Linked DNA regions of Homo sapiens. The protein of the gene in region 5 interacts with the protein of the main gene of each other region in a pairwise test. Each region holds a gene or a part of one and is shown on either strand. Other genes may lie near its edges. The genes, in order: SH3GLB1, ZNF410, LAMP2, GSN, CAPN3, CHAT and CASP6.

Region 1 (4,018 bases), on a different chromosome or scaffold from region 5:
AAAACCAAGTAAATGAAATTTTCTCTCCCCTCAGAAAGGAAGTTCTACAGCCTAGAGTACCATCTATTGTGTTTTATAAGTCCAGATTTAGGCTTTGAAAGATCATACCAAAACTTCAGATCGACTTAAACAGCAACTATGAATTAGGTTTATGGGAAATGTAGTAATACAGGGGAAAGAATATCGGTAATGGAGTGAAATGGTCCTGGGTTCAAATCCAGTCTTCCTCACATATTGTGCTCTTTAAGCTTCAAATGAGATGTATAACTGCCTTTTCCTTACCAGTAAAATGAGGACAATAATTATGACACCATAGGGTGGTTGTGAGGATTAGCAAATGTTATCTTGTATTTCAGGTGCCTTTCAGGGAAAGGCTTGGCACATAGTAAACACATCCTGTAAATATCAGTTTCCCCTTGTTAGCCCCTGTAGCATCCTGACCTACCAAGTCTATAGGCCTTGCATATCACTGTGCACCAGAGATACCTCTTTTACATCTGGGCTCTGTTTTCTCTCTATCAATCCTATCCTCCACCCTCTTTAAATCAGACCCCAGGTTTAACCTTCCCACAGTCAGTATAAATCATTTTTCAGAACTTTCAGCTTTCCATCAAGTGAAAGTTGATTTTAGTTACCCAGTAATGTACAGAAACCTTCAATAATGTTAAGCTTCAAAGGCTTCTGGTACGTTTGTCTACCACAGAACCACCACAATATATATGCTTGTTCTTAGGTTTATTGCTTTTTATTTTAATGGGGTTTGGTTGTTTGGGTTTTATTTTGGTTTTGGCTTATTTTAAAGTCAAGTTTAGTTTTTACTCAGGTAAAGGCCTGAAGTTTCTTGGGCGTGGAAGAAAAAGCTTGGGAAGCCTATTAATTCATGGTGCAGTTCAGAATTGTTTAAATAAGCTCTGTGCCACTGAGCTTAATCTGAAAGTATAGTGACATGTGAAGGATGCACATATGAATGAAAAACTAAAATAATTGTAGGCTCTTCTATAAATGAAAAAAAAAGTGATTGGATTGTGTCTACCTTTTTCCTCAAAGTAATCTAACCTAAACGGTCATGGTGTTAAAACTTTTTATGGTGCTAATCAGAAAAATTGATGTTGCAAGAAATGAGGTCTCAAAAATGGGAATGTGCCTCCTCACTCTGCGTCACATGGGAAATAAATCCTGAGGCCAGGATCACCAGTGGGGTAGAGTCATCTTCATAGTCTCCTGTTATCCTCCCCCTGAACAAAGAACAAAGTGAGACTGGGAAGCTAGTGTTGGGGAAACATTTCTGGGATAAACTGTGGAGTGGAGAAGACAATGGAGGGCAAGGCAAAAACCCACAGACTTGTTTACCCATAGAGGCCCCACTCACCTCCATGCTGACAGAATTCCAGAAAAATTCCTTCCCTATCTCCCAAACACCTGAAATTCTGAAATATTGCCCTACTATTTAGCACTTTAAGCTTCAGTGAGGTGCTGTAATGGAGAGATAGCTTCATAGTTTAGCCTATAGCCAACTTTGCCTCAAGACCTCCAGATAAGATGAAGTGGCTTTTACCTCATGTGAGTCTCAAACGCTGGAGAGAGAGTTCCACAACCACCCCTGCCCTTTCTCCCATATTACGCTCATTAGAAAGTCTACTCAGGGCTGGGTGCCGTGGCTCATGCCTGTAATCCCAGCACTTTGGAGGCTGAGGCGGGTGGATCATCTGAGGTCAGGAGTTCGAGACCAGCCTGGCCAACATGGGGAAACCCTGTCTCTACTGAAAATATAAAAATTAGCCGGGCATGGTGGCGTGCACCTGTAATTCCAGCTACTCGGGAGGCTGAGGCAGGAGAATCACTTGAACCCCAGAGGCAGAGGCTACAGTGAGCCAAGATTGCACCACTGCACTCCAACCTGGGTGATAGAATAAGACTCTTGTCTCAAGGAAAGAAAAAATGTCTACTCAGTAGAGCAGTGATTGGCAAAGTGTGAGACCCCAGACCGGCAATATTGGCATCTCCTGGAGACTTGTTTAAAATGCTGATTACTATTTTCAAGAACTTTCTACCTTCATTTTTACTTATTTTTTGTTTTCAAGGGCTCATGGAATCAGTCTTCCATGTGACAGCTTTTTAAATATTTTAAGACAAAAACTGAGTCTTCTAATCTTAATTGTGTTCTAGCAGTAGTCATTGTAATTATAGTTATTTTTATAATTTATTTGTTTAGTGTATATCTGTCACTCTAGAATGTAGGCTCCCTGAGATAAAAACTATAATTCTTTTGATGGCAGTTACATTCCCAACTCTTAGCACAAGATCTAGGACATAGTATGAACTCAATAAATTTTTGTTGAATGAAAGAAAAATGCAAATTTATAAGCCTTTTCAGAGACCTACTGAATCAAACTCTGAGAGTGGAGCCCAGCAATCTGTTGTAAAAGCTGTTTGAGTAATACTGTTGCACTCTAAGCTTGAGAACCACTGCAATAGAACTAAGAGAACATTCATTTCACCTTCAGGCCTATTCTCTGACATCACTTGAAAAATCCTCTCTGCCTTCTGTAACCCTTAACCAACAACAGTGCCCTGTCCATGTAGGGGAAACTTCTGGGCTGTATTACAAGTGGGTAGGAAGGTATAAGGATATCATAGTGGGAAGTATTGCTTAGAATGCCAGTACTTGTTTGCTGTGGAAGGTTTCTAGGAATGGATTGCTTAGTCTAAAGTAAGCACTACCACCATCCACGTTTTCACTCAACACAGTGCCTTTTAATTGGTGACTAACATCAAAACACCTTGACAAACCGTTAAAACAGTATCAGAAACCATGTGTACATCCCTGTGCCTCTTAGATTGCTAAGTTCTGCTCTCATTCTTACTTCAAAGGACACTTTTTAAAGAATTGTTAATGCTTTTTTATAATACAAGTCATAGCCCTGTTGGCAAAAAGAAAAAAGATTCAGTGAGAAAGAAAAATCACTGATAATTCCATCATCCAGGGAGAACCACTGTTATTTAAGTATATGGCCTTCCAGACTTTTCTGTGCATTTATAGATATTTTTAATGGGATCAAAGTGTACATACTGTTTTGTAACTTTTTTTCACTCAACAATACCATGACTGTCTTGCTGTGTCAAGTATATTTCTACATCTCTTAATGGCTGCATGATATTCCATCATATGTGCCACATTTTATTAAACTACTGTTCAATTTTTAGGTTTCCAACTTTCATTAATAAAGTGCTTTAAAGAACATTGTGTTGCTAAATCTCGTATGTGTTCATATTTTCTCACGATAAATGCTTTGAAGTGGAATTGCTAGTGAAGAGGGTATGCCAGTTTTTAAAAGCTTTTGTTACTGCCATGTTGCCCCCTAGAAAACTCTAAGCAATTTATACTTTTATCAGCAGTATATGAGAGAATACTGTTTCTTTTGGAGGGCTTCCAACTAGAATGTTCTTGGAGTCTTTGGTTTAAAAATAAAGGGTAAGAGGGAGATAAAAAGATCCTGCAAAATTAAAGTCCAGTCTTAAATGTTTCTTAAATTATGACATTCATTTACTGTTCTTCCCTCTTTATCATATATTTTGTATTACTTTGGAAATGTTTGTAGTACTAGTTGCCTCTTGCTTTTATTCAGTCTCCTGGAAGCATTATTACCTTTCTGACATTTGCAAAGACAGTAGAAGAACAATCTTAAGTAGACTTGAATCTTGAGGTATCTTTGATGCAGGTGTACTGTTGATGGATTTAGGGAATGTAGCCGTAGTGGGGAAAGTAGGATTTTGGAAGGTAGGCAGAACAGTGGCTCTCCCACTTGTTTTCCTGGCCTTTTGTCAGTCATTAAACCTCTCCCACTTTGAGCCTGCTTACTCATCTCTAGAATTAGAATACTATAAACCTACCTTGTAGCATTGAAAGGATTAACCATATTATGAAGAGTGGCTGGCACCTAGTGGATAATATTATGGCTTACTAGGATTTATAGATGAGCATGTTAGAGCATTTGCTATTGTCAACCTCTGGAGTAAA
Region 2 (4,463 bases), on a different chromosome or scaffold from region 5:
CCATATACTGAAGTTTGAGAGGCTGGGAAGGTGCGGAATGGGAAAAGGAGCAGCTGCTTATGTTCAGTTTAACATTCTCTGGGTTTCTCCATCTAGGTCTTGAGTTCATTCTCTTCCTGTCCTTTTGGCTTCCTTGTTTAACCTGGTCCCTGTTTCAGGAGAGAAGCCTCATCAGTGCCAAGTCTGTGGGAAGACCTTCTCTCAGAGTGGAAGCAGGAATGTGCATATGAGAAAGCATCACCTGCAGCTGGGAGCAGCTGGGAGTCAAGAGCAGGAGCAAACTGGTGAGGAGGGTGGGCATAGTGGAACGCTGTACTACTTCTAGGGTTCCAAGAGCCAAATCACTGTCCTGCCTGCTTATCTGGAAATTTTCTGATTCTGTTTTGGGTAGATAGACCTGGTCTCATTTGATGGGCTGATGGTTTCCAAACATAGCTATACAGTAGAATCATCTGCAACCTTTTAAAATTTATATACTTTTTGTTGCTTGTCCGCCCACCAATAAAACAAAGCAATCTGATAAATGAGATAATTTGCAAGATCCTAGAATCTGTAGTTTTAAAAGTTTCCCTAGTGAGTTTGATGGTAACTAGTGCTGATCCATGAACAAGCATTTGAGTAACACAGTGATAAAAGATTTCCACATGGGAAGAGTTTAAGCTTTTTAATTTTTTTAGATGGAGTCTTGCTTTGTCACCCAGGCTGGAGTGCAGTGGCGCCATCTCGACTCACTGCAACCTCTGCCTCCTGGGTTCAAGCAGTTTTCCTGCCTCAGCCTCTTGAGTAGCTGGGATTATAGGCAGGTGCCACCACACCTGGCTGATTTTTATATTTTTGTAGAGACGGGGTTTCACCATGTTGGCCAGGCTGGAAGCATATTTTATTTACCAGTCATGACTACCTTTTTGCCCTGCCTGAAATTTGATAACTCTTTTTAATTCTTATTCCTTCGCCATATCTTTCCTTAATTATTCCAAATATTCCTTTCTAAAGATCCACCTATCCTGTTTCATATGCTAATTCTTCAGACGCTGAACACAAGCAAGGATCATTATCTTCTAAGGCTTACTCTTTCCCTTCTAGGTTTATTCTTGTTTCTCGAAAGTAGGTGAAATAGGGGGTGGCATCCCATCTATAGGTTAACTTCTAGTAATGAAAGAGAAGGCCAGCTTCTGTTGAAAGAAAATGAGGACCAGGCACAGCCTTGATTGCTGTATGTCTCTCACAACCTATTCTCTGTGCAGCTGAGCCACTAATGGGCAGTAGTTTGCTTGAAGAGGCTTCAGTACCCAGTAAAAACCTGGTGTCTATGAATTCCCAGCCCAGCCTTGGTGGAGAGTCCTTGAACCTACCAAATACCAATTCTATCCTGGGAGTTGATGATGGTAAGACTTCCAACTCTCCTTTATTTGGGAAAAATGGGCTGCAACTAGGGGCTAAGGAATGGGGTGTCTCCACAATGTATGTTTAAATCTCATTTCTTATGAGTAGCTGTGGTATGAGTAGCATTTGTGTTCTTATTCTCTGGGGTGGATTAGTCAATCTGTTTAAAAAAAAATTTTTTTTCATTGAAGATAATATAATAAAAGAATAAAAAGAAAAAATTCTTAAGAAAAAATTATTCCTAATCCTAGCATCCTAGCCCAACTATTTCTATCTTTCCTATTGCAGTTATGGAAGAACTTAACTTTTAGAACATTTAAACAGAACATAACCAGGTTTTACAGAGGAGATATAAAGCAATTTCTCCATACCTTCAAAAGCCATATCTTCTGGAGAAAAGAAAGGGCTCTCTAGGAAACACTTGCTCCTCTCTGGTATAGAAATTTCACCCAAGTTACACAGGCCAGGCCCTCTTCTCTGAAAAACTTAACAGGTGAGGTCAGCATGCATTTATTCAGTGCCTACTGTGTGCCTGGCACCATGGGAAAGACAAAAGTAGAAGATAGGGACCTTAAAATCCAGTTGAGAAGTGAAAGCTTACATATATATGGGAAAGAACATTGAGTACATAAAAGATAGTATATAAGCCAACATTAAATTATATGGTACAGCATAAAATAGTTGTATAATCTAGAAAACCCCTAGAAGAAACTTCTAGTTTTTTGAGGGCTAAGTGGTATATCCATAAACTATTTCCAGAAGATTTTCATGGTGATCCCACTGATGAACATTTAGTAACTGTGAGACCCTATGTTTTTGTTACTCATATCATATTCAGTTAGTAAGTGCTATTAGTATCATTGGCGACTGCTTTTAAGGGTGGCTTTGGTTCCCTTACCTGCTTGCCTAAGACTTTTGCCTGTTTCATACATAGTTTTAATTCAGTTAAAAGTGCTAACACCATATTATTCTAAATCCTGTATTAAGATTTCTTGCCTTTCTATTCTCTTTTTATATTACTTTCCAAATTCACTGATAATGCTTATCAGACAGGATTAACTTGGAAGAAATAGAGGAATGTGGGAAATAGAGGAATAGAGTTTTAGAGTTGTTAATGAGAGGCTTAATGATCCAGATAGGTGTATCTCTGGATTCACTTTTCATTGAAACATTTTTCTGTTGCTTCACAGAGGTGCTTGCTGAAGGATCCCCACGTTCCCTGTCTTCAGTGCCTGATGTGACACATCACCTGGTGACCATGCAGTCAGGGAGGCAATCATATGAAGTTTCTGTCTTAACTGCAGTAAATCCACAAGAGGTAAAGTGGTCTCTTGCCCTTTGTTTCTGTGACAATTCATGTGGGGAATGATTGAGAATTTAGAGGACCTGAAAAAGTCTCCAGTTTCCATTTCCTGGAAACTTTGGCACGAATATTTTCCTTTAAATTAAGCATGAGTTCAGCTTGAAAGGAGCCTGAGGGTTAGGGTCTTAATGAATTGGAGATTGGTCTGTCACAGCTGGGACTCCCGGCTTTAAAGTTCTTTTATATACATTCCTTGTTGATGTCTGTTCCCACTATTCTCTGCCACACTATAACATGATACAGCTTTTATTTTATAAAAGCACACAGCAGGCACTGAATAAATGCATGTTGACCTCACCTGTTAAGTTATTCAGAGAAGAGGGCCTGGCCTGTGTAAATTGGGTGAAATTTCTGTACCAGACAGGAGCAAGTATTTCCTAGAGATCCCTTTCTTTTCTCCAGAAATAACATCCTGGAAAAAGTCCCTCAGCAAAAAAGGTAGTAACAAAATCATTAAACATAATTATTGTTCATTCTGCTATGGTCATATGTCTGGGAGATACCAGGCTTAACCAAATGGGCATATACAGATTTGTTCACTTGCTTGCTAAGTGAGAACCATTACCTAAATCAATGGTCTCCAGCCTTTTTGGCACCAGGGACCGGTTTCGTTTCACCTCAGGTCATCAGGCATTAGATTCTGATAAGGAGTGCGCAACCTAGATCCCTCAAATACACAGTTCACAATAGGGTTTGCGCTCCTATGAGAATCTGTTGCTGCTGCTGATCTGACAGGAGAGGTGGAGCTCAGGTGGTAATGCTTGCTCACCTGCTGCTCACCTCCTGCTGTGTGGCCTGGTTCCTAACAGGGCACGGACCAGTGCTGGTCCATGGCCTGGGGGTTGGTGACTTCTGATCTAAACAAAAAGGGTTTGAGGTTGAGCTAAAGCACTTTCAACTCTGTAGTTTGGCTTTGACTCAGGAAACAGAATGCAAAGTGGTCAGTGTTTTAAAATCTTGGGATATTTCACTGGTCTTGTGTCATGGGAGTGGATGACTTCATCACGAGCACATTTCATATGCATAAACTTTTGTCAAAACCTCTGTAGCTTGGATCCTTTCAGTATTACATTAGTTTTTATGGTGCTCTTCCGTCTTTTCTCCTCTTTTCTTTTCTTTTTTTTTTTGAGACAGAGTCTCGCTCCGTTGCCCAGGCTGGAGTGCAGTGGTGCGTTCTCGGCTCACTGCAACCTCTGCCTCCCAGGTTCAAGCGATTCTCCTGCCTCAGCCTCCTGAGTAGCTGCTACTACAGGTGCGTGCCACCACGCCCAGCTAATTTTTTTGTATTTTTAGTAGAGACAGGGTTTCACCATGTTGGCCAGGATGGTCTCGATCTCTTGACCTCGTGATCTGCCCACCTCAGCCTCCCAAAGTGCTGGAATTACAGGCGTGAGCCACTGCACCCAGCCTTCTTCTTTTCATTATAACCTTTATACCACAGTAAGCTGTTGCATCATTCAAATGACTCTGCATCCTATATTGAATATTCTCCATTATTCTCTAATATCTTTGGGGGTACCCAGGATTACAGGGTTCTGGGCATACATGTTAATGCTTTTGCCAGGACTTTTCTTTTTATTGTTGTGACCCATTGTCTTTGCTTATATTTAAAGTTTTTGATCTTGATATCATTGGTTCTTTCCTAAGTCACTTTTTCTGGTAACTGCTTTGGAATGAATCATACATATCTCACTTACGGAGCCTTCCTCTTTCTCCT
Region 3 (3,787 bases), on a different chromosome or scaffold from region 5:
AAATACATGCAAATAACAAGATTTTCTTACCTCTCAGTTGTTGAAACACTTTGCTTCTTAAAATTGATATGTTGAAACTTTAATTCTTTTATCAATCCCAGCATTTTGAGATCAGTCTTTATTAATAAAACCTGTTCTCTTTAATCAGCTTAAAATCCAAAGTGTCATATTTACTGGTCCTGGAGACAAACTTGTTCAAAAGAACATCAACGTGCAATGTTTTAAGGTCTATCTTAAGAAGCCCTGGCCAAATTTTGATCCTAACCTTGAAGTATGCCTTGAACTTATTAACATGGCCATTATAAGAATAAAATATGTAGTTGTGTCTTAATGGAATTAATAAATGTCATTTCACTACTGGTGTTCTGTTTCAATGTATAAGGACTATAGTGATTTAAACTCATCAATGTGCCTTTGCATAAAGTTCATTAAATAAATATTGATGTGGTATAAATGCCCATCAGATATGCTTAAACTTGGTTTTCAGTTGAATGAAGTAGAGAATGTCCTCAGGACCATCAGCATTTTAAAGGTTATGTGACTTTTGCTGATTTCTCTGAGTTCAAGTTAAGCATGAAGTTAGTACCTCAAGCCTGTGATTTTTCCCTAGGGATGATACAGACCCAAGAGGCTACAACAGAACTTAAACTGGCTTCGTAATTAGAGTTTTTAAGATAATTGTTTGTTTTTCAGCAATATAGACTGAAAAGATCCAAGCATATTTAGCCACTTGCTTTTTTGTTTCTTGTTTTGTTCTTCTTTGGATGCCTGATTAGTATTGAAAGATAGAAATATTCTATGAACTAATTAGGACAGATTGTGTTGTGTTTCTCTACCTCATCTTGTTGATCTCTGGAGCATTAAAATCTATTTAGTGTTGTCATCAGTGTGGTACTTATGAAATGTAAGCTAACAGCAATCTCAGAAGGGAGGCAGTGAAGCATAGCAACTAGGCTCTTGTTTCTTCAAGATGGCCCCTGTGGGGCAGTGCATAGATGGGGGTGTAAAGAGAAGCTGTTGGCATTAAAATGAGCTAGATAATCAGCCCTTGTTGAAGCATATTCCATGGTATAAGAGTAGCACAGACATGAAACATAGATAAAGAAGGAAGGCTTAATAGACTAGAAGACTTCCACATTGAAGTATTATTAACCCATTGTATGTATATAGGGGCATGATCAGAGTCTCTATAACTTCCTGATTAACAATACAGTGTATCTTGTTACCCAGCTGTCAGTCTTTGAGAGCTTTCAGTAAAATATAGTAAATTCTTTCAGCATAGGCTAATGTGTGGTTACTGAGATGAGTGTTGTGTACTCAGAACCGTAGCAACATTTTTATGAATGGTAAAAGTACAAGAGGAGGAAAAGTTAAAATTAGAAGAAAAGTACAAGTTATTGCTTAATCATAAATCACACCAGATAACACATTTTGTTAATTTCATTAGCTATTACTGGAAAGGACCTTAACGATTATTTACAGAAAGGGGAGTGAAATTCATTGAGGTTCCATATCAAGTGGGCAACAAAACTATTACTAGCATTTTGATAAAAATTGCCCCTAATGAAATCTAGTCACTCAACAGTAAAACAACAGCTGGTTTACACTTGAAATTATGAGATCAGAATTGGGCACTTTGGGCTTCCGTACTATGTTTTGCTTAAGTTTTTTTTTTAATACTAATATGGGCTTTTTCAGTAGTAATATACCAAAACACTTCTATTTTAATCTCTGTTTGCTACTTCAAAACCTAATCCTCCTCAGATGGGATCATGAGCATAAGAGGAAAAGAGAAGAGAATGAATACTTGTTGACCTCTTGATGTGTATCAGATGCTTTAGAAATGTAATTGTATTTAATCCTCAAATACCTTATAGGTATTATTATCCCCTTCTTACAGATGAGGAAAGTGAGGCCCAGTTTAAATAACTTGCCCAAGGTCCTTTGGCTAGTACTGGAAGGAGTCAAGATTTAAACACAGTTCTGTCTGAATCCAGAACTCAAAATCTACATTGCACATGTTGCTTTCCTGGTGGTTCGGTGGAATGGACTGCAACGCATTAGATACTGCTGTTATTCTTCCAGGCCACCGCTCAGCTAAAAATAATTGTGTGTGTGTGTATATATATATATATGTACACACACACACATATATATACACACACACATATATATACACATATACATATATATACACATATATATACACACACATATATATGTATATATATACTACATTCTTGATCCTAAGTCTTTTTTAACTTAAATTTTATTACTTATACAGAATTCTTATTTATACTTTAATTATAGGTGTGACGAAGAGAAAGAGAGTAGGGAAATACACAGGCAGTGGTTTTAAGTGTAGATGATGGCTCCTTAACCCAGTGTCATTAGATAATCAAACCTAAAGTCTTCCCATATTAGGCAAGCGCAATTCTCTATTTTGGACCCTTCCCATTCTTCCCTTACCTTCTGCTTTTCGTACTGAGGAATTTCGTGTGATTTTAGATAAAGTGATAATGAGATATTGAGCAAATAAGAAAATAGAGGTAATGCTATAAAAAACTAAGCTATGTACACTTTCAAAATGCATGTTTCTTGCATGCTTTTTACTACTTAATTGCATTCTTTGCTAATTTCCTTTCCTTGCTGTCTGTTCTTTTCTAACAGCTGAAGAATGTTCTGCTGACTCTGACCTCAACTTTCTTATTCCTGTTGCAGTGGGTGTGGCCTTGGGCTTCCTTATAATTGTTGTCTTTATCTCTTATATGATTGGAAGAAGGAAAAGTCGTACTGGTTATCAGTCTGTGTAATCAGTTAAATCTAGTGTTTGTTTGTTTTTTTCAATTAGAAGTTACGTTTCCATTGGCTAAAAGCCAGGACATGCTGTGCAATAGATTGTTTAAGATATGCAGACTAACTTCAGTGAGTTCCTAGCTAACTTGGGCATGAGTACACTTATTTAAGACAAAATATATTAGGACCAATTTTTTTCTGTTTTTTTTCTTCCTTTGTTAAAGTATAATTAAAAGAAAAATTGTGGCTTAGAATTTTTTAAGTAAATAATGATTTTAAGCCCCTGGATCCAATTATGAAAGCATTTTTGCTGATGTGTAATTTTATATGTTACAGTTACTTATATTTTACTACTTTGATGTTATTTGCAAAATCAAAGGTGTTAAAGAATTTAACTTGCTTCAGGAAATAAATTCAAGAACATAGTGGATTCATTTTCATTGGTGGCAGACACGAAATTTGGTTCATGATAAGACTTCCTTTCCCCACCTCCTGATCAGCATTATTTAAATCTGTATTTTTCTGTTAGTTAAGAAAGAAATGGCTTCATGATATTGTATTTAATAGCAAAAGTTTGGCTGTCTTCTTCATTACTGTTAATAGCTACTATATTTTAACAAGGAGATTTCTTTTTTTGTTGTTGTTGTTCTAGAGTTTGGAATATACTGATTATCTCAGACTTGACATTTATACTGAAGGATGAAGTAAGACCTCCAGCTTTTTTTAAAAAAGGTGTTGATTTGGAACACCTGTATGGGTTATGGTTTATTAAGGTTATGGTTTAGAAAGTTTTTTTCCCTCAGAGCCTTAACTTGTTAAGAAGGTTCATTTATCCTGCACTGAAAACAAAAACTCTATATACTTTGTTTGTGTGCCTCCTGCACTCTCCCATTCCCTATGTGAATATGCTCTAGTTGATATTTTTAATATATTGATTTCTTTTTTCTCACAGCAACAAGTGCTTACTCTAGAGGTTAGTGGGCCCTGATAT
Region 4 (4,463 bases), on a different chromosome or scaffold from region 5:
TTGGGTCATTTGTGATGTGGGTCATAGAGATGATTTCTGCTTGGTCTATGGTACGTTGCTGAGACACTGAGCTCTGGTTTTCTTTAAGAAAACTTTTACATCCTGTGTCTGCGGCCTCTGGGTGTGTATATTTGCTTATCAGAGACCACAGGTGTGAGAGAAGTTAGAAGCACTGACTTGGAAATGGACCCCCAGTCTTGGTTCTTTGGGTGACCTTGGGCAAATCCTATCTCTCTGAGCCTCTGGTTCCTCATGTGTAAAATGGAGAGATGTTGGTTTGCATGATAATAATAAAAAGCTATCTTTTAACTGGGCATGGTGGCTCACACCTGCAGTTCCAGCATTTTGGGAGGCCGAGTTGGGTTGATGGCTTAAGCCAGGAGTTTGAGACCAGCCTGGTCAACATGGTGAAACCCTGTCTCTACTGAAAATACGTGCTGGGATGCTCCTGTAATCCTAGCTACTTGGGAGGCTGAGGTATGAGAATTGCTTAAACCCTGGAGACGGAGGTTACAGTAAGCTGAAATCACGCCACTGCACTCCAGCCTGGATGACAGAACAATACTGTCTCAAAACAAAAAAAGAAAAGACAAAAAAAGCTATCTTTTAATATACCAAGCACTGGAACATTAATTACTTTATTGATTCCTTGCAACCATTCCTCTGAGGTAGATACTAGTATCTTCTTTTACAGATGAGGAAACTGAGTCCGAGGCTGAATAACATGCCCCGGGTTGTGTGGCTATTGGGTGATGGTGCAAGGATTCCAGAGGTCTGACGACAGAGCCATAGCTATTAATGACAGCACTAAACATTCTCTTGAAAATTCTTTCTAGTCCTGGTATTAGGAGAACTGGTAAGGGAGTTTGTTATGCTTTTATGAGGGGTGGGTGTCGGTGTGCAGAGCTTGGAGAGCTCAGCCCTGCAGCAGAGAGGCCTGGAGGGGCCTCCCGGGGCTGTTTGTAAACTCATGCTTTCCTGTGCCATCCGCAGGACCCTCAGTGCAGGTCAATCTCCCCTCCATTTCAGGGAATCCAGGCTCCAAAAGGACACAGGACTTGCCCAGCAAGGTCATGTGGTGAGGTGAGAGCCCAGCCAGGACTGGTCCCCCCTTTTCATCAATCAAGCTTATGCTCTGGAAATCTATCTGGCGAAGCCAGGAAAACTGGACACTCTCCTGCTCCTTGGTTATTCCCTGAGAAAATGCCAGCAGAAGCAGAGAAAAGCACGTCCCAGGGGTTATGCATTTTGGGGAGGAAGGGAAAAAAAGAGACCAGTGTTTAGGCAGCCGGGGGATGTTAAGTAAAAATATCTCCTCGCTTTCAACGGAGTGAGCGTGTGTCATATTTCAGCCTGATGTGGTTTGTGAAGTTGGAGACCACAGGCAGGCTCAGTTCCTGCTGCTGGCCAGCTTCCCCTTCCCTCTGTCCCTCCCCTGCCATATGCCTGCTCTCGTCTGCCCTGCCTGGGACCACATCAGCAATTTAAGAATAGGGCAGAGAAAAGCAGTGGGTGTTGTGGGCAAGGGTAGGCAGCTGAAGGCCTGGGCTTGGGTCCTGGCTTTGCCAGTGACAAAGTACTGGGTGACTTGGGCTAATGCATGCCTTTCTCTGGGCCCCAGTGTCCATTCTGCACTGTAGGGTGGACAGCATAATGTCAGCCTTCCCAGCTCTGATGGCCTCTGAGTTGGAGGGCTTTGTGCTCCCCACATGTACTTGGGTCCGGCATGTCTGAGACACAAAGTGAGCCCGCAGTGGTGCAACTGGTGATTCAGCTACTGTTCTTGAATTTAATCTTTTCGGACTGAATTGATTGCCCCATTTTGCAGATAAGGGAGTTGAGGCCTAGGATTTGTTGATGTATCCCATTCCCTGCTCTACAAGCAACAATAATAAGGGCCACCATATGTAACACACTTACTATGTATGTTCACCTTTTGCTTTCACTATCTGCTTTAATCTTTTAACAGATCTACGAGGGGAGAGATAGTGACTCCATTTTACAGATGAGGAAACTGAGGCTCAGTTTAGAAAAATGAAAGGACTTACGTTCTCTTCTTTGAGTCTCACAATAGTCCTGGGGTTGTCATTATGTGACCCATTTTACCAGTGAGGAAACTCAGGCCTGGAGACGTGAGCTCCTTTGCCCAGGGGTCCCCAGGGCCCACACACAGCCTGTCAGGTTCCTTCCCAGGCCCTCCTGCTCCTCCCTCCTCCCTTGCTTGCTCTGCCTCATGGGGAGCCTCTTCACCTCTTGCATTCAGTGCCTGGGTTAAGGGATGAGAACAGTTTTCTTCCTGGGCTATAAAGTATCCCTGAAATTGACTCTTCCCAAGAGTGATCCAGAAAGGCTTTAAGCCATGGAGCCTCGCAGGGAACTCCAGTGAAGGGGTCGCACCAGTGGGAGTGGATTCGTTTATTCTGCTGAGCTGGCTAAGCAAACAGTCCTGTTATTTTCCAACCTCAATAAGAATATCATCAGAGCCAAGCTTATTTGCCAAGCAAAGTATATATATTCTACATATGTGAGCCTTCAGGGTGGGGCTTGGCCCTTAATTTCCCTGCTACAGAGACTGTGGCTGAGCTGGGTTTTGGTGGGTACTAAGTAAATACTAGTTAACTTGTTGGGTGTGTGTTGATGATGTGGGTGGCATATGTACTTTTTTCTCCCCACCTCCAAGGACCTTTTCCCCCCACCCTTATTATTTCTATTACACTTGTGATAGAAAATTTAGGAAATAAAAAAGTATATATATAAAAAAGAAGTGTTCATAACTAACCAGAGAAAATCACTGCCAACACCTGGGTGCCCTTCCTTCCTGATATTTTCAGTGCATTTTTTTTTACCCCCACACAATTATCCTATATTTATAATTGTCTGTTCTGACTTTCTGTTTTTTCTCAACATTATATCGTAAGTATTTTTCTCATGTTATTAAGGATTCTTTTTAAATTTAATTTTTAAAAGTTTTAAAAGCATACTATACCTAAGTAGATAAATGTTTATTCTAATTTAAATCTTTTATTCCAATAGTCCTAGGGATTAAAAAATGAAATAATGCTTTTTATTTATTAACAAAAAGGCTGAGAGAAACAGGATTTGCCCAAGATCACCCCCAAAGAACCAAGACTGGGGCTCCCCAGGGCTGTAGTTTGCATCCATAAATACAGAGAGAATAATGTTTATAATCTTGGGTATAAAAACTTCTGGTGAAAAGGTTGATCAAATGCTAGCTGTATTTCTCCCCCTTCCATGGCTTTCTACTGAGTCTCTCTCTCCTACAGGACCCTACTTTGCTCCATAATTAAGCAGCAAAGTATTTCAAGAGCTGTTCAGATTCTAGAAACTCATAGCAGATGAAATCGACAGATAAGTCAGATATCGAATATAGACATTAAAAGATCTGGGCACTAGGCTGTACCCTGTTATTGTCAGTGGCTCTTTAGTCCTTAAACAAGGGTCTTGCCTCCTACTTTTTTTTTGTTATGGTAGAAATAAATGCCCACCCGAGTTTTCATCACTCACTATTATTCTATCTTTGGTGTGCCTGTACCATGTTCCCTTAACAATCCTCAATTATGAAACATTTAGGCAGTTTATAAACAATACTGCAATGAACAACCTAGTGCATACTTTTTTTGTGTGTTCTTCTTTTATTATTTCCTAGAAGTGAGCCCTAGAAATGGAGTTCCTGAGTCAAAATGACACATTTTATAGCTTTTTCTTGTTAAAAAAAAAATTCAGTGACACTTGTGAAAACACGGTAAGGAAGTCTTTATTCAGGAACATTGCCTTGGGCATAGGGACCACTGCAACAGGGTCCTACAGTGAGGGAGAGAGTTTGGGCTCAACTCCTAATACAGCATGGGCGAGTGGGAATTGATAGCTGCAGAGCAGGGTAGGGGTCAGCGGATGGAAAATTACTAAGAGGAAGCTCAGGAATAAGGGATATTCTTGCTAAACCGACCTAACAAAATTATTGATGAAGACAAACCAGGGTGATTCAAACATCAGTGGGGGCATGGTGGAGGATGAGGAGCCTGATCAGATATCAAGGATGAGGGGTTCTGGCTAAACAGACTTAGCAGGATTCTTTTGCTAAAACTGGATTTTACAAGGAAGTGCACAGGTAGGCCTAGGAGAAGGTTCAGAAGCCTGGCTAAAGTTTGGCCAAGCAAATAATCTGTGTCATGCTAAATTTTGCCAAATTTCTGCTCATAAAGGTTACAGTAGTCCTTATTCCTACCAGCCATCCGTGAGAATGGCAGCATTCTTCAGGAGCATCTGAAGCTGGTTATAAAAAGCTCAGCTGTCCTTTTATAGAATAGAGTACAGCGACCATTTTCCTGAAACGTTACATTTCATTCATTCATTTGGCAAATACACTTGCACAATTCAGCAGCAATAAAGCATAACAAGTTAAGATCCCAGGCCGAAGAAGTGGAGAGAACTTGGTTCTCCTT
Region 5 (3,966 bases):
ACTGGATTCTGAGACTGGATAACATTGGATTTCACACATAGAGAAAAGAAAGTAAGCTGGTGCCGGACCTGGTGTTGACACTTGGATCCTCCACTTACCAGCGGGGTGACCTGGACAATTTCTGTAATCCCTCTCACTCAGTTTCCTACTCAGTAAAACGGGGATGATAATGTGCCTTGCAAGGCTTTTGTGAGGCTTCATCAATGAGGTGATGTATGTGAAGTGTCTGGCACAGCATGGGCACTCAAACAGAGGTGCTTTTTCACACTTTACACCTTACAAGGTACTTTTCACATGTGTCATCGCGATACTTGCAAGGTTGCTGAGAGGTAGATGGGGTTATAATCCCTGGTGTTCAAGAAAGGAAGCAGAGGCTCAATGGGGTTGAATGACTTCTCTGAGTTCACAGAGCTCAGTAAGTGGCAGGGTTGGAACTCACATTCAGACTCTCTGACTCCAGACTTAGGTTTTTCCGCACCTCCACGCTGAGGCCAGCCCCAGGCAGTGAGAAGCCCAAAGTCCGAAGCACAGAGTGCTGTGTGTTGGGCTCTGTGTGTTGAGGAGTCTTGTGACTGCCTTGGGGCTTTGGGCTGTAGTCAGCTGACAGTCCTTTGTGCTCTGTGGGGATGACGTAGGCCAATGGGAGGACAAATGCCCCTCTGAACTGTCTTCTGGGCAGTGACAGTCATGGTCATAATCCTGACCCTGAGCCAGTGCCAGGTCTCCAAGTGCCTTCTGAATGACCACAGGCGATTGGTTTTAGTGGTAGGTGTGTGGGGATCTGTTCTGGTCATCTGGATGCTGGTCATCGGTGTGCAGTATTGATCAGGACCTGCAAACCCAAAAGCTTATGGGAGCTGGCACGTCACGTGAGTAGAGCAGGCAGGTGCAGGGGTTTTGATGTCCCTGCACTGACACAGTTGTCTGCAGTTCTCAATTGACATTTCGCTCCAGTGTCGAGGGTCAACAGGAATGTTGGGGCGTGGGGCAATCTGGAAGACACAGGGAGCAGGGCCCTTGGCTCAGCTGATAGTTGCCGCAGGGATTACAGGCCCAGGGCAGCCTGCCACAGCTGGGGCTTTTACCAAAGAAAATCTCCCTATGTTAAATGCTTGCTCAAAAATTTTTAAAAAATATTCTGTAAGTCAAAATCCATTGTTAGGTCAGTTTGAGAGAGCCATGTTTTTGGTGTTTTAGTAACCAATTTCATTTTTTTATTATTTATTTATTTGTTTATTTTTGAGACGGAGTTTCACTCTTGTCACCCAGGCTGGAGTGCAATGGCATGATCTCAGCTCACTGCAACCTCCGCCTCCCGGGTTCAAGCAATTCTCCTGCCTCAGCCTCCTGAGTAGCTGAGATTACAGGTGCCCACCATCACGCCTGGATAATTTTTGTATTTTTTAGTCGAGATGGGGTTTCACCATGTTGGCCAGGATAGTCCTGAACTACTGACCTCAGATAATCCGCCCACCTCAGCCTCCCAAAGTGCTGGGATTACAGGCATGAGCCAGCACGCCCGGCCACCAATTTCATTTTTTAAAAAAGGAAGAAAGAAAACCTTAGCCAGAAGATCTTTTTCCTTGCCATATGCAGTAAGAGTAGATTATAAAAACAAAGTCAGAGCAGTCACTGGTGTCTGGGCATGGAGGAGAAAGAAGAATTCTCTTCTCCCTTCACCCTCCATGCCCCTTTTTGGCTCCATGTGATTCAGATTTCTGGACCCTGGAGCCCCACCCCAAGCTAAAGACCAGGATACAGGGAAGCCAAAAGCCACTGGCGGTTCTGAGAACTTACTTTTCACTTATTCTGCATTTACTGTTTCCTTTTCTTATGCAGAAAAAGAAAAAAACCAAGGTAGGTGTGTGGGTAGAGAGCATGAAGTGTGTGTACTCATGCATATGTATGTGCATGCATGTGAAGTGTGCATGTGTGAGCTCATATGCATCCATGCACCAGACTTGCCTCTTCCTCCCCCTCCTTCCTGAGCTTCTGCTGGGGCCGAGCGTGCAGTAATGACAACTACGATTTGCTGGGGGAAGGCTACGTGCCAAGCACTCTTTTAGGTGCTTTCCATGATTAATTCCTTCCTCACAACAGCCCTATGAGATTAGTACTATAACTATCCCCATTTTCAGAGGGAGAAAAGGTACAGACTTGACTAACTTGCCCAAGGCCACACAGCCAGAGAGGGGCAGAGCCAGTACTTAGAGCCAGGCAGTCTGGGTCCAGAGTCCGTGTCCTGAACCACAAGAGGCCATCATACACCATCAGATTTGGTGCTAGCATTTCTGGTGGTGCCTGGTGGTGATGGATCCATCACAGGGGTCCTCCAGGTACTGGTGCTGGCCCAGACCAGAGCTGACACTCCTCAGGCACTACCACATTCCAGGCACTGTGCTTGGGGTCAGTCCCTCTCTTTTTTTTCCCCCCCAATTATAACAGTATCTACAAAGTAGGTGCTGTTATTTTTCCCCTTTCACAGGTGAGATAGACTCAAAGAAGTGAACTTGCCCAAGGAACAGAACTAATGAGTGGGGAAAATGGAACTGGAAACCATGTCTGTTTACTCCAAAACCTGTGTTTCTTGCCCTCTTTCTCTGATGCCAGCCCCCTACACTTCAAGGCCTGTGTTGTCCAGACCCACACTCGGGCCTGCCAGTGTGTGCCTGGCAGGGATGCTCCATGGCCACACCATATCCATCCTACACATCCCCCCTCAGACTGTGACCTCCATTTGCTCTGGGATCCCCACAAGCTTCAGCTGCTTGAGCAAGACACTGCTTAGAAGGCAGAGCAAGCCAAGGCCTCTGGGGCCTGCTGGGAGCCAAAGCTGGGGAGCCGTTTCCACGGGTCTATCTGCTTGAGCTGTCCTAGATGAGCAGCATGGAAGGGCAGTGGTGCATGAGTCCAGGCGGGCTGCTTTTCTGCTCCGAGAGGCTCTGCCTGCCCAGTTGTTCTCTGCATTGCAGCCTCAATCCCCACAGCCTTGCCTTCCCCCGGCTTTCCCTACAGGTGCACCGCATCCACAGTGTTGGCACCATGCAGCAGCCGCTCTCCGTCCTTTTCATATCCTTGTCACTTGCACGAGCATGTCTTGAAAATATCCCTTGTTTGTGTAGCATCTTAAATGTTTTTGCAGTATGATTTTGCATTCAGTATCTCATTTGATCCCCACAAGAGCCCTATGAGGAGGGAAAGCAGATTTTACCATTAAAGGATGAGTAAACTGAGGCCAGAGAGGATATTTTTGGTTTTTTTTGAGACAGTCTCACTCTGTCACCCAGCCTGGAGTGCAGTGGCTTGATCTTGGCTCACTGCAAGCTCCACCTCCCATGTTCACACCATTTTCCTGCCTCAGCCTCCCAAGTAGCTGGGACTACAGGCACCCACCACCACACCCAGCTAATTTTTTTGTATCTTTAGTAGAGATGGGGTTTCACCCAGTTAGCCAGGATGGTCTTGATCTCCTGACCTTGTGATCTGCCTGCTTCGGCCTCCTAAAGTGCTGGGATTACAGGCGTGAGCCACCGTGCCCGGCCAGAGAGGATATTTCTTATATGAGGGGCAGGGCTGGGATTCCAGCCCAGTGTTCTGATGGCTCACCCACTGACCATGCCACTAATCCGTGTCCTTTTTCAATCTATACTTTGCAGGGTTGTAGAGGTTCCTTTGAGGTGCCTCAGTAGCTGCCATGGTGATGTGGGGTGCTGAGGGCAAAGAGCTCTGTTCTCATTAATCAGAGAAGCTTGTGTTTTTATATACACCATGTTTCTGCAGGAAATTTAATTTGAACAGTGTTTCCATCTGGAAAAAAAAAAGTCTACAAAATACTTGACAATCACTGCACTAGATCATGCTGCTTTTAGCATTCTTAGCATTTCACGTGCTGAGCTCTCAATACTCTACCATGAGGAGGGATGGAGTGGGTATGAAAAGATAAAGAACTGAAGTCACACGGCTTGT
Region 6 (4,463 bases), on a different chromosome or scaffold from region 5:
GAGTCCCACACTCGCTCATCCAAGCCTCAGCCATCCCCACCGGGGTGTCTCTCAGTCATTACAAATGAGCCAGGAGAGCTTCGCCTCTCCCTCCCCATTCCCCAACTCCTCCCATACCTTGTCGAGCCATGTCCGTAAGTGCACCAGCACATGCCCTGTTGGTGAGTCTGGGAACCTAGAAGTCACCTGTGCTTGTTCTGCTTTCTCCCTTGCACCTTCATGTAACCCATGGTGCTCAGATGTGGTCATTCTCCCTCCCCACTGTGTCCCCAAGCTCCCTCCTCCTTCCCTGCTGCCCTCACAAGACATCACGTTCCTTCTCTGCCACAACCTCCTTCCTTGTTCTTCCTGTGACACCTTTCAGTCCATTCTCCCCATATAAGCAGGGTCAGTAAAACAACAAAATGGAAACCCAGTCATGCCCCTGCGTGCTAAAGCCTCCCAAGGGCTTTCACTGCACCAAGAATAAGGCGATAGCTCCTCTCCACTGCCACTGGAGCCCCACAGGACCTGGCCTGCCCACCTCTCTGGCCCTGTCTTCACTGGGCCTCAGCCCCACTGGCTTCTCTCTGCCTTTGATCAGTGCTTCTCAAGCTGCCTCTGGGGAAGAACCAATATATTTTCTTTCATTTTGTAAAATTTGTGAAAAACAACAAAAAATTGATTACTAGAAAAACGGTATGAAATATGAGACCAAATGTTTTATTACAGGATTCAACAGACATAAAACTCCCATCACATTGCTACAAACATTTCTGGGTTCAGGCATTACACCAAGTCATGGGTCAGTCACAGCAGTTCAGTGCAATACTCATACTTTGAGTTGCAGTGCTTTGGGACACTTCACCCTTAGGGCTCAGCTCAATCAACCTGCCTCAGTGAGACTGCCCCTGGTCACCACCTCCTGTCCCTGCCAACACTCTGTCTCACTACCTGACAGTCTCCTGTTCACTGGTTTGCTGCTTGTGGTCTACTCCCTACCTACACATCCTAGGACTTACACCCCAGTAGAGCAGGAGCTGCATGTCTTATTTGCTGCCATATCCCCACATCCCAGAATGGTGCCTGGCCTATACGGAGGACGTGCTTCACAAATATTTGTTGGCTGAAAGAGTGGAAGGAAGGAAGGATGGATGGACGGATGGATGGATGGATGGATGGATGGAAAGATGGATGGATGGTGGATAGATGGGTGGATGGTGGATGGATGGGTCGATGGAAGGATGGATGGATGCTTGGTGGATGGATGGGTGGATGCAAGGATAGATGGATGGTGGATAGATGTGTGGATGGTGGATAGATGAGTGGGTGGTGGGTGGAAGGAGGGATGGATGTTTCGTGGTAGAAGTATGGTAGATGTATGGATATATGGATGGATGATGGATAGATGGATGGGTGGATGGATGGAAGAAAGGGAGGGAGAAAGGAAGGATAGGCACAAGGCATGCTGAGACCAGAGGGAAAAAGAACTTCCTGCATTGACCTCAGAAGAGGCTTCTAAAAGAGATGATAAAGGAGTAGGCTCTTGAAGGAGGGGAAGGAGTTTTCTGAATAGAACAGTTGAGTTCTGGGGTTGGGGCAAAGGCACGCCGAGAGAAGATCAGCATAAGCAAAGATGCAGAAGGCTAACTGGCAGGCTTTGCACATGCCGTGCATGAGGCAGAGGTTTGAGAAAACTCTGAGGGTCTCCACGTGTTGTGGAAATGGGGCCTCCACTACTTTAAAAAGTGGAGAATTGAGCTCTGCATCTGCCATGATGATGCAGTTCTGGGTTCTGTGCCCCATTTTGCCTGATCAAGTTACAATAAAACCCATTCTCTGTCTCCCCTCACCACCCACCATCCCCTCGTGGCTGCCTCCCTTCCCACTCCTCTCCTTCAGCCACTCCATTCCCACTGACTGTGCCAAAGGCCAGCTGTCAGGGCAGCCCCTTTGCATGAAGCAATACTATGGGCTCTTCTCCTCCTACCGGCTCCCCGGCCATACCCAGGACACGCTGGTGGCTCAGAACAGCAGCATCATGCCGGAGCCTGAGCACGTCATCGTAGCCTGCTGCAATCAGGTAAGCAACCCCTTGTCTTGGTGAGGGAGGGCACAGAGCATACAGTGGCCATGCGTTCACGTCCATTACCTTCTCCGAGGGGGCTCAGCCTCCTTCCCTGAGTCACACAGGGAGCTGGGGCACCATGTCTCCAAAGTGGGGCCCCTACTTCCAGTCAGTCCCATGTCTCTCCACCAGTTGCCTTCTAAGAATGAGAGCCGTCAGTTTGAGAATATCCTCACTGGACTCTCACTTCAGCACTGATGCACTGAGGGTCATGATCGAGACCTCCACCTGTACATCTGTTCTTTTCCATGCAGTCACCCAGGCTCTGGCCTTTCTGGAGACCACACACAGACAGACAGTGTTACAGACTGACAAATAGGACCTTTCATGTGTCAGCCTGTGGGCTCAGCACTTAACATGCATTCATCCCACTTAATCCTCACAGTGACCATGCAGAGGGGGCCTTAGGATCTCTGTGTGACAGTTGAGGACATGAGACTCAGACAAGTTAAGTGGTCTGTCCAAGAGTGGGAAGGAATCCTGGGTCTGGCCAGTGCCCTAAGGTCATGCTCTACCCCCTGCAGCTCAGGTCCTCAGACTGGGTTCCACAGAGCCAACAAGGACCCATGGGTCCTGGGGGACAGGCTGAGCATGAGGGCTCCTGACCTCTTCCCTGTGCCCACTGCACTATATATTCCATATATTGAGCTTCACATAAATATTTCCTCTGACAAACAGTTTTGTTTTTGTTTTTGCTTTGCTAAAACCCAAGTTTGGCAACCATCCCAGGGACTCCCCTGGTACTTGCTCTACAATGTGATCCTGGGCTCTCCTCACATTTTTAGTAAGTTGGGAGCTCTGTGGAGCCCTGACATCTGAGGGCAGCTGTGACCTCTGTTCCTAGATTTGAAGGCCATCTAGGAGCTCTCGCAGCCCACCTGACACCTTGGCCATAGACCAAGGACGTTTCCCCATCTTCATTCAAAAGTCAAGCCAAGTATTTCCCAGCTCCCACAGGCCACCGTATCCACCTCTTCCAGACATGCTCTGGGCCCCTGCACAAGACCAGGCCATACAGACACTGCTAGGGGGTTGGAGGGGAAGGGAAAACAAGGTACTCATGTCAATCAGCTGAAAAGTGTATCTTGACCTGGGTCTAGGAATAGACCCTTCACAAAGCCCAAGGCTCTAGCCTTCAAAGCTACAAAATGACAAAACCACAGGGCTGACATACAAAGCACATGTAGGTATACATGTGAAGGTGCACACACATGCACACATGTGTAGGTGCACATGCACGCATGGTGTGTGTTGGTTTTCCATTTTAATCTTCCTCTGCATATGATTGCTGGCTTGCTTTTTTTCCTCCACTCACCAGTGTGTTTAAGGCCCATCACTGTGGCTCTATCTGTTGCTAATTCACTCTTTTCAATGGCTGGGTAGACATGCCCTAGACATATACACCACATTTCACTTAGCCATTCCCCTTCTGGAGAACAGTGAGGCTCTTGCTACCATTTTGCTGTTGCAAACAAGGCCGAGAGGCACATTCCTCGTGTCTTCCGGTACACACGGGTACGTTTCTCTAAGCCTCAGGCTAAAATATGCATTTATAAGTGCAATTGCTTAGTCATAGGTATGCACATTTTTAGTTTTGATAGACACTGCCCTCCAACAGTAGCTGTGCCAATTTATATTCCATTCCCCACAAACATAATGGATTCCGTGAACCATGAAACACATTTTCTTTTGGCTAAGTTTAATGTTGCCTTCTTTGATTGGGGGCAGCGTGGAATCCAGCACAGTCAACAGCCTTGGCTTGGTCCCTAAACTGAGACTAGAACCACCAAACACCTTGGGAACCTTGGGCCTGAGCATCCCTGCCCCAAGCTTACCTGTGAAGGCTGAGTGAAGGCCTGGTGCCACGGGCCACCCAACAAGTGACATGTTTGACCTGTTTACCCCACAGTTCTTTGTCTTGGATGTTGTCATTAATTTCCGCCGTCTCAGTGAGGGGGATCTGTTCACTCAGTTGAGAAAGATAGTCAAAATGGCTTCCAACGAGGACGAGCGTTTGCCTCCAATTGGCCTGCTGACGTCTGACGGGAGGAGCGAGTGGGCCGAGGCCAGGACGGTCCTCGTGAAAGGTCAGCCGCAGTGCCCAGCACATCTCCATGCCCATCTCATGCTCGTGCCCATTGGCTTTCCCTCCTCTAGGGTTGGGCCAGGGCCTCATCCCCATCAGCCATAGTGTGGGAGCTCAGGGCCCACAGCATGCCCTGCGGCCAGCCACAGTGCCTTGCCACCGAAGCCACCTTTTGTGCCCTCGTGTTCCATCTGACAGTATCTGGCTTTCTTGGTGGGACTAACTAGTGCTGGAATTGGGGATGTCTGAGAATACTGGGCGGGGCGGGGG
Region 7 (3,622 bases), on a different chromosome or scaffold from region 5:
TAGGATGTTTTTGAGTCCCATGGTTCATTTTGATTGTTTAATCTTTGTTATTAAATTCTTGTAAAACAGAAGTATTGTTTGAAGTTCTCAACTGAGATTTTTACTTTTTGGATTTTTATGACTTGCTAATGTTAGAAAGGGCTTGTATGCGTCTATCAAAGCAACGGTGGCTGCTGTTAGCTAAAAATCCTTGTCAGCTTGTCCCACGTTTATTCTCTATGTGGAGGTGAAAGGGTCTGTGCTTGGCATTCACTTCCATTCTTAGACTTAATTTGGAATCATCCTTTTAAAAAAATCAGAGACCAGGTCTTGCCAAATCAAACTCCTGGGCTCAAGCAACCCTCCTGCCTCAACCTCCCACGGAATCGTCTTGTCATTAACTTCTTTTTTTAATATGCAGTAGTTGGGAGTAAGATCTTTTTATCATTTATCAAAAAGGCATAAATGTTCCACCAACCATAAAGTATAGTTGGTACTTTTTGAACTTCAACTGAAACAGTGTATATAAACGATTGCTTTTGAACCTGCAAATCACAAGTTTCAGGTATCGAAGCCAAAACAGTTAACTTTCTTCAGCCTCTGGCAGATTATTAACAAAACAGTATTATTCAGATTCTATATCATATTAATAAGAATTGAACCTTGAAAGTAACATCTGTTATTCTATTAATGTGATTGTGTGTGAATGGGTCTGATGACTGTTGGACTGTTTGTAGGAACTTAACATGGAAGATGCTGACAGAATCAGATTTTGCAGGTGTTCAACCTATAGTGGCTAAGAATTATGTTTTCTATTTCATCCTCAGAATGCCATACAACAATTCTGGAATGCTGATTTTTTTTAAAGTAGGAATTAAAGTCATACACAAAATGTGGTAATTCATATGTAGATGAAATATTAAACATTTAAATGACCGAGTAAAAAACATCTATCAATTACACAAATGAACAAGAATGTGAGTTAGAAAAATGTAATAAAATATGAATTTCGAATATTTTATTAAGGGATGATTTAATTCCTGGATTTCAAAAACCTTTAAAAACATCAAACAATAAACTTTTATAAAAAAGTGACAAAATACAAGTTAAATCAGCTAGATTTTTGTGTAACCCTGCAGTTTATTAAAAAATAATACAAATGCTTATAAATTTTTATTTATCTAATTTCCTGAGGATTTTGTTTCTCCATATCAAACCCTTTCACCATGGCCAACATGAACTTTTTTTTTTTTTTTTTAAGGCAGTTCTCTGCTAGGCATTAAACTTTAAAACATTTGAATCATTAGACCATAATGCTTCACCCTAACGATATTTATATAAAAGGAAGAGAAAGACATTTTCTTTTTTTTGAGACGGAGTTTCACTCGTTGCCCAGGCTGGAGTGCAATGGCGCAATCTCGGCTCACCGCAGCCTCCACCTCCTGGGTTCAAGTGATTCTCCTGCCTCAGCCTTCCAAGTAGCTGGGATTGCAGGCATGCGCCGCCATGCCTAGCTAAATTTTTTTTTGCATTTTTAGTAGAGACGGGGCTTCTCCATGTTGGTCAGGCTGGTCTCGAACTCCCGACCTCAGGTGATCCGCCCACCTTGGACTCCCAAAGTGCTGGGATTACAGGTGTGAGTAACCACGCCTGGCTGAGAAAGCCATTTTCAATACAGAGTGTAAAATTAGATAGCCTCTATTAATTAATTAGATTTTGGAAAGAAATGCAGCTTTTTAGTTAGCATTGAGGCAAAACAGGGAACCTGCTTCTTTCCAATTGCACTTGGGTCTTTGCAAAAGTCCACTCGGCGCTGAGAAACTTTCCTGTTCACCAGTGTGAGGAGTTCTGTGAACTCTAAGGAGGAGCCATATTTTCCCAACATCTCACACAAATCTTGAATGTACCATGAGCCGTTCACAGTTTCCCGGTGAGAATAATATCCTAAAAAAGTGAGAAGGAAAATGTTGCTGCAGTTTTCTGGCTTTCAATTACTGTGTGTATTCTTTTTAGTTACAGAAGTATAAGTTCTTAAAAATCCTTAGAAGAGTCTTAAGATGTGTCCATGATATAAATGGCTTTTAAATTTTTTTGACTCTTTTCAAATGGGAAAAGAGATTAATTCTATATAGTTTTATATACACGGGGTTAATTCTGTATAATTTCTTCCATTTCCTAAAAAATTCCCAAGATAGACAATGATTGAGACATGAGATTACTAAAAAGAAGTCAAAATTATTTACTACAAAAGCAAAGAACCATTATCAAAATATTTTTCAGTTGGGCATGGTGGCTCATGCCTATAATCCCAGCACTTTGGGAGGCTGAGGCAGGCAGATCACTTGAGGTCAGGAGTTCGAGACCAGCCTGGCCAACATGGTGAAACCCCATCTCTACTAAAACTACAAAAATTAGCTTGGCGTGGTGGCAGGCACCTGTATTCCCAGCTACTCGGGAGGCTGAGGTAGGAGAATCACTTGAACCCAGGAGGCAGAGGTTGCAGTGAGCTGACATTGGACCACTGCACTCCCGCCTGGGCAACAGAGTGAGACTATTAAAAAAAAAAAAAAATACACACACACACACACGTCTGGGCAACAGAGTGAGACTATAAAAAAAAAAAACGCACGCACGCACGCAATGGCTCATACCTGTACTCCCAGCACTTTGGGAGGCCAAGGCTGGAGGATTGTTTGAGACCAGCCTGGGCAACATAGCAAGACCCAATCTCTACCGAAAAATTAAAAAGTTAGCCAAGCATGGTGGTGCATGCCTATAGTCCCAGCTACAGGGGGGCTGAGGTGGGAGGATTGCTTGAGCCTGAGAAATTGAGGCTGCAGTGAGCCATGATCATGCCATTGCACTTCAGCCTCAGTGACAGAGTTGAGACCTTGTCTCAAAAAAAAAAAAAATTAAAGCTTTCCATGACAATTACCACAATGGCACTACCACCCTCAGTAACTGATGGTAGGCTGCTAATACTAATATAATTAATTAGACTGTTGCTTTACTCAACATAACTCTCAGGAATTATTTTTCTGTAAGGTACTTTACACTTTCATTTATCACTCTGTGCCATGTGGTCAAAGAAATTCTAAGTCTGTGAGCTTCAGGATGGAATCACCATGTCCCAACCGAAAGATCTGACCCAAACCAATCAAAGGTGAAACTTACAGGACCTTAGCCAAGAGAGGCAATTATATGTTTGTTTTAAACACCACACACCTTCTGCAACAGAGTAACACATGAGGAAGTCAGCTCCAGCAGGCAGCGTGTAAACGGAGGCTGCATCCACCTCAGTTATGTTGGTGTCCAACTTCTCTGTCTGATTATCTACTACATCCAAAGGAATGACTGGCACATCGTGCTGGTTTCCCCGACATGCCTACAAGACAAGGAGGAAAAACCCACCTCTTTGCCTACTGTTTCCTTCCCAGTGCTTAATGTGTGCAGTGAATGTGTAAGCCAGTACCCCTTCATTACAACAGAAACCACATTCTGAGCAGTTCAGAAGCAATACATTCAGGTTTGGAGGGCACAAAAGCCAACAAAGTTGTTTCCTTACTTAGGCTTTCTTTTAGTTAATGTTTTAAGAAAAAATTGGCATCCCCAAGTATACATCAAATTATGTTGGTAGAAGGGT

What was found.
Region 1: the proteins of CAPN3 (region 5) and SH3GLB1 interact in binary tests that used the Homo sapiens proteins (3 or more experiments, as listed by UniProt).
Region 2: the proteins of CAPN3 (region 5) and ZNF410 interact in binary tests that used the Homo sapiens proteins (3 or more experiments, as listed by UniProt).
Region 3: the proteins of CAPN3 (region 5) and LAMP2 interact in binary tests that used the Homo sapiens proteins (3 or more experiments, as listed by UniProt).
Region 4: the proteins of CAPN3 (region 5) and GSN interact in binary tests that used the Homo sapiens proteins (3 or more experiments, as listed by UniProt).
Region 6: the proteins of CAPN3 (region 5) and CHAT interact in binary tests that used the Homo sapiens proteins (3 or more experiments, as listed by UniProt).
Region 7: the proteins of CAPN3 (region 5) and CASP6 interact in binary tests that used the Homo sapiens proteins (3 or more experiments, as listed by UniProt).

Annotation. Positions count from the first base shown.
Region 1 is NC_000001.11:86,744,944-86,748,961, forward strand, and holds the end of SH3GLB1 (endophilin-B1), read left to right. Parts: 3' UTR 1-3,241; downstream 3,242-4,018. UniProt on the Homo sapiens protein: May be required for normal outer mitochondrial membrane dynamics. Required for coatomer-mediated retrograde transport in certain cells. May recruit other proteins to membranes with high curvature. May promote membrane fusion.
Region 2 is NC_000014.9:73,920,822-73,925,284, forward strand, and holds part of ZNF410 (zinc finger protein 410), read left to right. Parts: intron 1-158; coding exon 159-284; intron 285-1,244; coding exon 1,245-1,385; intron 1,386-1,877; exon of another isoform or gene 1,878-1,915; intron 1,916-2,573; coding exon 2,574-2,701; intron 2,702-3,880; coding exon of another isoform or gene 3,881-3,982; exon of another isoform or gene 3,983-3,998; intron 3,999-4,463. UniProt on the Homo sapiens protein: Transcription factor that binds to the sequence motif 5'-CATCCCATAATA-3', and is specifically required to silence expression of fetal hemoglobin in adult erythroid cells.
Region 3 is NC_000023.11:120,427,510-120,431,296, reverse strand, and holds part of LAMP2 (lysosome-associated membrane glycoprotein 2 isoform A precursor), read left to right. Parts: 3' UTR 1-2,670; coding exon of another isoform or gene 2,671-2,813; 3' UTR 2,814-3,787. UniProt on the Homo sapiens protein: Lysosomal membrane glycoprotein which plays an important role in lysosome biogenesis, lysosomal pH regulation and autophagy.
Region 4 is NC_000009.12:121,270,781-121,275,243, forward strand, and holds part of GSN (gelsolin), read left to right. Parts: intron 1-1,029; exon of another isoform or gene 1,030-1,083; intron 1,084-4,463. UniProt on the Homo sapiens protein: Calcium-regulated, actin-modulating protein that binds to the plus (or barbed) ends of actin monomers or filaments, preventing monomer exchange (end-blocking or capping).
Region 5 is NC_000015.10:42,404,087-42,408,052, forward strand, and holds part of CAPN3 (calpain-3), read left to right. Parts: intron 1-677; exon of another isoform or gene 678-869; intron 870-1,839; coding exon 1,840-1,857; intron 1,858-3,966. UniProt on the Homo sapiens protein: Calcium-regulated non-lysosomal thiol-protease. Proteolytically cleaves CTBP1 at 'His-409'. Mediates, with UTP25, the proteasome-independent degradation of p53/TP53.
Region 6 is NC_000010.11:49,623,592-49,628,054, forward strand, and holds part of CHAT (choline O-acetyltransferase), read left to right. Parts: intron 1-1,881; coding exon 1,882-2,062; intron 2,063-4,016; coding exon 4,017-4,194; intron 4,195-4,463. UniProt on the Homo sapiens protein: Catalyzes the reversible synthesis of acetylcholine (ACh) from acetyl CoA and choline at cholinergic synapses.
Region 7 is NC_000004.12:109,687,646-109,691,267, forward strand, and holds the end of CASP6 (caspase-6 isoform alpha precursor), read right to left. Parts: intron 3,365-3,622; coding exon 3,205-3,364; intron 1,924-3,204; coding exon 1,685-1,923; 3' UTR 983-1,684; downstream 1-982.